Regions from separate parts of the Homo sapiens genome. Here region 2 is linked to region 1. Evidence: fine-mapped expression QTL. A gene starts in region 1. The other region holds a variant in brackets. All regions are shown on one strand. Distances are from middle to middle. Region 1 holds the start of PXK (PX domain containing serine/threonine kinase like). Region 2 holds the start of RPP14 (ribonuclease P/MRP subunit p14).

What was found. PIP is the estimated chance that this variant, and not a neighbour inherited with it, causes the effect.
Region 2: its variant is the best candidate, but not a certain one, in a credible set for the expression of PXK in whole blood (INTERVAL, PIP 0.70).

The regions. Positions count from the first base shown.
Region 1 is chr3:58,330,586-58,335,098 of GRCh38, forward strand. PXK (PX domain containing serine/threonine kinase like) reads left to right here and starts at 2,307. Exons shown (of 18, transcript NM_017771.5): 1 at 2,307-2,505. The coding sequence starts at 2,404. RefSeq lists silencers at 2,081-2,610, 2,857-3,151.
Region 2 is chr3:58,302,979-58,306,978 of GRCh38, forward strand. It overlaps RPP14 (ribonuclease P/MRP subunit p14), which reads left to right and starts at 3,267. Exons shown (of 6, transcript NM_007042.6): 1 at 3,267-3,439. It overlaps HTD2 (hydroxyacyl-thioester dehydratase type 2), which reads left to right and starts at 3,542. Exons shown (of 5, transcript NM_001348712.2): 1 at 3,542-3,673. RefSeq lists enhancers at 3,053-3,132, 3,323-3,582, 3,703-3,832. The variant T/A (reference allele first, on the strand shown) is at 2,302.

The DNA of each region.
Region 1 (4,513 bases):
ATTTATACTCCCACCTGCAGTAAGAGAAAAGAGCCTTGTCTTGGTCAGTCCACATCACAATAGGAGTAATGATTATAGCTGGATTTTGGTTTCTGTGACTCTGGCAGAGAAATAATCTATTTGCCTTAAAACAAAGAAATGAAAGTAAAAAGTTGAATCCTCCCTAAATGACATATGGTTTTGCTTTAATAGACTGCTGCTTTTAAACACACTGGCACAAAAGTGGAATGGAGGGAGAGTTCTGATTATTTTAGGGCTGAATCATGAAGGTCCAGGATTCCTTCTTCACATCTCGCTCTATTAGATCTTGGCCCCTGGGACCAATCTCATGGCTACTTGACTCAACGGGGCTGCCCACCAATCCCAATAAGCTTGAGATCTGGAGAAGGGACCCTTTATGTATGATGTGGGCCTTTCCTGTGATGTCAAATTTTGGTGGTGGTGGTGGGATTACCAAGGAACTTTGTTCCCTTATCTGAAGTGTAGAAATTTAGTGGAGGCAAATTTAAGAGTTAGGAACCTTCCATTCTGTCAACTGTAGGGGAAGGAGGAAACTAATATTGACTTTGTTTTGTTTTTTTTTTGTTTTTCCGGAGACGGTCTTGCTCTGTTACCCAGGCTGGAGTGAAGTGGCATGATCATGGCTCACTGCGGCTTCAACCTCCTGTGCTCAAAAAACTCTCCCACCTCAGCCTCCTGAGTAGTTGGGACCACAGGTGTGAGCCATCATGCCCAGGTATTTTTAAAATTTTTTTGTAGAGACGGGGTCTCACCATATTGCCCAGGCTAAACTCCTGGACTCAAGCCATCCACTCTCCTCAGCCTCCCAAAGTGCTGGAATTACAAAGGTGAGCCATCATGCCTGACCACGGTTTGAGGTGTTTTTGTTTGTCTGTTTTTTTGTTTGTTTTTTGAGACAGAGTCTCACTCTGTCACCCAGGCTGGAGTGTAGTGGTATGATCTTGGCTCACTGCAACCTCCCCCTCCCGGGTTCAAGCAATTCTCCTGCCTCAGCCTCCAGAGTAGCTGGGTCTACAGGCACGTGCCACCATGCCCAGCTAATTTTTATATTTTTAGTAGAGGGGGTTTTGCCATGTTGGCCAGGCTGGTCTCAAATTCCTGACCTCAGGTGATCCACCCACCTTGGCTTCCCAAAGTGCTGGGATTACAAGCGTGAGCGATCATGCCTGACCACCGTTTGAGTTTTTACTATGTGCCAAGCCCCTTCCCAGTCTACTGCATTCCTTGTATTAACCTTTTCATACAAATAATATTATCTCCACTTTGCAAATTGGGGAGTTGGGACTCAGAGAGGTTGGGTAACTTATTGAAGATCACACAGCTGGTAAATGCCAGAGCCATGGAGATGATGGTCCTCCAATTCTAAATTTAACTCTTCACTATCCTGGAATGCTGCCCTAGGAGAGGGCAGTGTGGGTGAAATTTCTAGGTGTATATGGAGATGGGGGGGATGAGGTGGTGCCAGGATTATGGCTTTGGGTTCAGGCAGACTGTGGGCAGATTTAGGGCTGAGAAGTTGATCCCAAGGTTCTCTGGCTTGGCTCTTGGTTTGAAGTTCTTCTAGTCCATATGGTGGGATCAAAAACTCCCAAGTCTAAGGGATGTGGTTGAGCCCGCAGTGGGGGCCAAGAGTAGAGGCTAGGGGTCTCTGGACCATTTTATAGGGTCTCCAGTTCTTAGAGCTTGGGTCTGAGGGTTCTGGGGCCCAAGACCTCCAATTATGGGGTCCAGCTCTTAGGTGTTCAGGCCTGAGGAGCCACGTTCAAGAGTCCCTGTGAAGTTTCAATAGGAAGGGCTTGTTTCAGAAAGTCTCTGGGTTTGCAGGGCTCAGACTGGGGGTCCCATCCTAAAGGCCCTTTTTCTGAGTTTTAGGGTCCTTGGGCCTGGGGGATGAGAGAGATCCAGTTCTGAGGGTTTCAAGAGGTACGGTCCCCGAAAAGCCCAGTTCTGAGAGGCCTGGTTTGGAAATCTCGCCCTGAAGATTCCTGGATCCCAGGGCTCAGGACCAGGCGTCTCTGGATCTGAGGATCCTGGTAGTGATGGCTTAGGGTGGTGTTCCCTGGTCCGAAGCCCGGAGCTAAGGGCACCGGGTCTGCGGTGCGGCTGCGAGGAGCAGGGAAGCGCAGGCCCATGGCAGCCGCGAGGCGGAGGAGCGGGCCAGCGGGCGGCAGTGCTGGCGGCCCCCACACGTTCTGCGCTGGGTCGGCGCTAGGACTCCGGGGCGGCGGCCGTGGGAAGGGCGGCGCTAGGACCCCGCGGGCCCGGCGGCGCGTGGGGCGGCGCGTGTTGACAGCGGCGGCGGTGGAACCGGGCGGGCGGCGGGAGTCGGCGCCTCGGGTTCCTACCTCGCGTCCCTAGGCGGCGGCGGCCGGGCGTCCCGGGATGGCCTTCATGGAGAAGCCGCCAGCCGGCAAGGTGCTGCTGGACGACACGGTGCCGCTGACAGCAGCCATCGAGGCGAGCCAGAGCCTGCAGTCCCACACGGTGCGCGGCCCAGCGGGCGGGCGGGCGGCGTGGGGCGGCCCCGGGCCGCGAGGGGGCTGCGGGCTGCCTGGCGCGGGCCGGGCAGGGTCGTCGGACGGAGACCGGGCCACAGGGTGGGCGGCCCTGGCCGAGAAGGCTGTGGCGCGCCGCTGGGTCTGGGTCAGGGCCCCTGGGGCCCAGGCGAACGCTGAGGCCCGGAGGGGCCAAGGATGGGGACCGCAGCTCCCGGCGCCGCGGGGTGGAAGGAGCTCGGCGGCGACCAGGAAAGCGACTCCGAGTTGGGGGGCGGGGGCGGGGGCTGCGGGATTCCCGGGCTCACCTTGGACTAGGGGAGCAGGAACGAGACCGCTCAGGACCATCCACTTCTGCCCGCCGCCAGCCTTTTCCTTTTTGAGGCCGTGTAATTTCCTCCTTGCAGCTGAGGGTCTGGGTGATGGGGATGAGGGTGTGCCGGGCCAAATGAAGTGTGACTCCAGAGCCTACTTGTTGGGACAGCAGAGTGTAAGTGGCTGGGGTCTGCAGCCCCGTTTCCAGGTCAGCCGCTTGGCCCTGGTCCCGGGAAGTGGTGGGGGCGGCAGTCGGGGCGCTGTTAAGCAGGTGTATGAATGTGCTTCTCTAACTTGCTCTTTAGTGGGCAGTGGTAGCATTCATTTGAGTTTAAAATCCACTCGAGTAGCATAAAGGAGTAATAGGTCCTCATAGTAAACATTGGCAGGGTTCATTTCTGCTACATATACGGTCTTTTATGGGGCTTTAAAACCGTGGTTGTTTTCATTTGCTTGTACCTTTTTTTTTTTTTGAAAGGCCCACTATGCATTATAATTTCCAAGCAATAAATCTAGGAACCAGCAAGAAACCTGGAGCTATCAGCTAGTGGGACTTTTTTGGAAAAGTAATGAGTGAGGAGAGAGATTCCTTCAATTGTGATGTTTTGTCAGTCCACCGAATCAGATTCAGACTCAGAGGCTTGTTTGTTTACCATTGCAGTGTGTTTGGGGGGTCATCATCTGGAGGCTAAAGCTCACAATAGCCTTCTGTTTCTCTTTTCGTTCAAGCTCTTCTGATGACTTCAAAGAGACCTTTTATTCTGTTGTATTAAAGTGAGACTTTTTTGAACCTCAGTTTCCTCTTCTGACAGCCGTGCTTTGTAGGGCTTGAATTGTTCAAAGCATTCACTTCCAGTTAAGAAAATTATTATCTTTTTAAAAAGGGCTATTTATTTCACGCTGTGTGTCTTTAATCCTATTCTGTAGACATGTGAGAAGGCACATACAGGACAGAATTTGTTAAACTTGCTATCATTTGTGCCTAAAGGGAGTATGGCATAAGGGTTGAAATTTAGGATAGGGAGTCAAGAGTAATTCAGCTATTAAATTTGATTTTTGACTTGACTATTGGCAAGTAAGTCTTATAACCTTTCAGGGAATAGTGTCGAGTCCTTTAGGTTTATTTTGTATTGAAAATAAAGAGATAGATGTTTCTAAATACTCACAAATTACTTTCCCTAGGAAGCATTCATGATTTCTACAGCCCCAGCCCATGTGCCTACCCACACCTTAATCTTGATTAGTTTGTCCTGTAATTACTTCTTTACTTTTTGTCTCCACCAGGCTACAAGAGGAGGGGCACTTCTTCCTCACTTTTGAGTCTCATTCCCTGGTTTTTGATAGGATTTCAAATGTGTTTATCAAATGACTAAATAATCCAACTTCAACCTTACTATGCCTCTTTTTCTGTTTATGTAAAATGGTAATTGTAAACATTGAAAAAATAACTTAGAGATCAGTGCTTTAGCTAGGTGGCGAAAGATGTAATAGGATTCTGTTTTTATTGTAAGGGTGTGTGTGTGTGTGTGTGTGTGTGTGTGTCTGTGTGTGTGTGTGTGTGTGTGTGTGTAGAGACAGCGTCTCACCATGTTGTCCAGGCTGGTGTGTGTGTGTGTGTGTGTGTGTGTGTGTGTGTGTGTGTGGAGACAGCGTCTCACCATGTTGTCCAGGCTGGTCTGGAA
Region 2 (4,000 bases), 28 kb before region 1:
CATCGTCAAGAGGTAAAAGCCCCCATATCATATTTTTCAGGGGACACTTAAGAAACTCATACTAGTTGTTGCTCCTGGAGAGGGGAGAGGCTGACAGGGGAAGAGGTGGAAGGGAGACTCACTTTTTAATATCTATCCCTTTATGTCATTTGAAATGTATGCTGTAAGCCTACAGTACCTATTCAGAAGATAAAATTTAGGCATGGTGCAGTGCCTCACACCTGTAATCCCAGCATTTTGGGAGGCCAACGCAGAAGGATCGCTTGAGCCTAGGAGTTCAAGACCAGCCTGAGCAACATGGTGAGACCCTGTTTCTACAAAAAAATTAAAAATTAGCTGGCCATGGTGGCATGCACCTGTAGTCCCAGCTACTTGGGAGGCTGGGGTGGGAGGATCGGTTGAGCCTGGGAGGTTGAGGCTACAGTGACCCATGATCACATTATTGTACTACAGTCTGGGTGACAGTGAGACACTGTCCAAAAACGATTTTTTAATATAAAATTTAGTTGAAAAACAAAAGTTTTTTTTTGTTTTTTGTTTTGTTTTGTTTGTTGGCAGAGTCTCGCTCTGTCATCTCGGCTAGAGTGCAGTGGCGTGATCTCAGCTTACTGCAACCTCTGCCTCCTGGGTTCAAGCAATTCTCCTGCCTCAGCCTCCCGAGTAGCTGGGATTACAGGTGCGCACCATCACACCCAGCTAATTTTTGTATTTTTAGTAGAGACAGGGTTTCGCCATGTTGGCCAGGCTGGTCTTGAACTCCTGACCTCAGGTGTTCTGCCCACCTCGGCCTCCTAAAGTGCTGGATTACAGGCCTGAGCCACAACACCCAGCCAAAAAACAAGTTTTTTGTCTTTATCATTCAAAGGCATCTCTTTTATCCTCCGCTCTGAATTAATAAGACAGCATGAGAGAATTCAGGCAACTGGGAAGACACTTCATTTTCAGGGTTTGTTGCAGCAGGGTGAAAATTATCTATTGTTCCTTGAAGTTCAAAATACAGGAATTGCTCTGGTTTTCCTGGGCCACCTGGCAGGATACATTTGCCAGGCAGCTGGCTTACAGGAACCCTCTCCCATTACTGAGGGTTTCCTGGGGTGCCAGACACTTTATACCATCAACTCTTTTTCCCTCAACTCTGTGAGGTAGATGCTAATAATCTCTCCATGTGACAGATGAGGGAGGTAGGTAAGTGGCAGAGGATGCATTTGAAGCAAGTTCTGGCAGCTTCTGAAATCAAGCTTTTTTGAGAAAGATAATACTTGGGTCTGTGGGGTCTGTGTTTGCTTTCTCCACCTCTTCCCACATCTGGAACAAGCCCTGTCTCCTCTGAAGGAAGAAGAAAGTAGGAACCACAGAACTGGAGAGCATGGCCAAGGTTGAGGACTGAAGCTTCTGGAAACAACACAGTGGGATTTTGAGAAAATAATTGAGGAAGGAGATCCCCGCTGACTCAACTGTCCTGTGCAAGGCAACCCTTTGCCCCCCAACCCAAGCAAAACCAGCACATCCATTTATGAACAAATGCCTTCAGTAAATAGATGTTGGGTCACCATTGGGTACCAGGAACTGGGATGCAGTGGTGAGAAACACAGACAAGGCCCCATCCTCATGGGGGTTACACTAAAGTTTCCCTTCCCACTGCAGCCCCTCAATTGGTGGTAATACAGTGCAGTATGGAGAGCACTGGCTAGAATCAGACAGCCCATGCCACTGCTTATAACTGTGATCTTGAGCAAATAACTTAGCCTCTCTGTGCCTCAGTTTCTTTTCCTGTTGCCAGGCTAGAGTGCAGTGGTGTGATCTCGGCTTACTGCAACCTCTACCTCCCAGGTTCAAGCAATTCTCCTGCTTCAGCCTCCCGAGTAACTGGGATTACAGGTGTGCACCACCGTGCCCAGCTAATTTTTGTATTTTCAGTAGAGATGGGGGTCTCACCATGCTGGCCAGGCTGGTCTCGAATTCCTGGCCTCAAGTGATCTGCCCGCCTCAGCCTCCCAAAGTGCTGGAATTACAGGCATGAGCCACTGCGCCTGGCCTGTGCCTCAGTTTCTACCTCTAAAATGGTGATGATCATAGTAATAGCCATCTCAGGATTGTGTGAGGGTTCCATGAGATGACATATGTAAAATATTTTGCATAGTGCCTAGCACAAAGTAAGTCTTTACTTTGTGGGTCTTTCCAGGACGGCCTAGATAGAACACCTACTATGTGCTGGGAGTCACAAGGGACACTGAGAGTGGGTCCTATCTTTGGGGAGTGCTTGACATAGGAGATCTTGAGGAGAGGAGATGCTAGATATAA[T/A]TTTGTAGGCTGGGCGCGGTGGCTCACGTCTGTAATCCCAACACTTTGGGAGGCGAGGTGGGTGGATTGCCTGAAGTCAGGAGTTTGAGACCTGCTTGGCTAACATAGTGAAACCCTGTCTCTACTAAAAATACAAAAATTAGGCCAGGCGCGGTGGCTCACGCCTGTAATCCCAACACTTTGGGAGGCCGAGGTGGACAGATCACGAGGTCAAGAGATTGAGACCATGCTGGCCAACATGGTGAAACCTCGTCTCGACTAAAAATACAAAAATTAGCTGGGCATGGTGGTGCATGCCTGTAGTCCCAGCTACTTGGGAGGCTGAGGCAGAAGAATCACTTGAAGGGAGGCGGAGGGTGCAGTGAGCCAAGATGGCGCCACTGCACTCCAGCCTGGGCGACAGAGCGAGACTCCATCTCAATAAATAAATTATAATATAATGAAAAAAATGTGTAGAATGACTCGGGCGCAGTTGCTCACGTCTGTAATCCCAGCACTTTGGGAGGCCAAGGTGGGCAGATCACTTGAGGCGAGGAGTTCGAGACCAGCCTGGCCAACATGGTGAAACCCCGTCTCTACTAAAAATACAAAAATTAGCCAGGCATGGTGGAGCATACCTGTAGTCCTAGCTACTCAGGAGGCTGAGGTGGGAGAATCGCTTGAGCCCTGGAGGCGGAGGTAGCAGTAAGCCAGATCGCGCCAGTGCACTCCAGCCTGGGCGACAGAGTGAAACTGTCTCAAAAAAACAACGAAAAAATTGTTGAATGAATGAATGAATGCATGAAGAAATGGATAACTATGAAGCACCGTCCAAGGCGGAAAAAACCCGCCCTAAACCGCACCCCAAGCAAATTGCACACACGGCTTTCCCGGAGTGGACACCAGAGGGCGCTGAGCTCGGCCGCTCTCAGCTCCGGATCAGGATTCGCGCCTGGGTCCTTAGGACGACGCCGCGTGGTGACGTCATATCCGCCTGGGCGTCACGCTTCGTGGGGCGGGACGAGGAGAAGCCAAACGTAAAGACACCAGGAGTTTCTCGGGCCCAGCTGTGGCTGCTGCCGGGGAGCCCCAAGCCTTGGCGGGTCCTTGCGGCGAATAGGAGTCTGGTCAGGCGTCAGGCTAGTCCGACGAAGAGTGGGTAGGTGGAAGCCTTCCAAAGAGCGGCGGTTGTCTGGGAGCCGTCTCAGTTGGCCGCGACCCGGGCGCATGCGCGGGGCGGGCGGTGCGCCTTGGGTAGCTTGTCCTCTCCGACCCCGGGCGCTGAGGGCCTCTGTACGGCGCCGCGTAGGGTCTCGGCCGCAGAACGTGGCCGAGAGGCCCGGGCGAGACTTCGGGACCGTGTCCTGAGCGCTCTCCATGCGCCCGGCGCGAGGTGAGCGCTAAATAGTGGTTGTTGAAAAATATTGAAAGCCACCCAAGTGCTCAGCAGTAAGGATATTGAGCTTTTTAAAGTGATTGATTTAGTCCAAAAATTGTACGTCGCACGCCCACTGTGCACGACCCAGTGTTTTAGGGCCTTGGGAAACAGCAGTGAACAAGATAGCAAGATTCTTGGAGTGGACTTTTGTTGGGGTGGGGAGGGGAAGTACAGATAAAGATAAACGAGTTACATAATTGTCATAGAAAAAGGCAAATGCTACGAAGAAGAAAGCAGGGACGGGGCATGGGGGTGGGGTGCGGTGTTAGCCGAGAAGGGCAC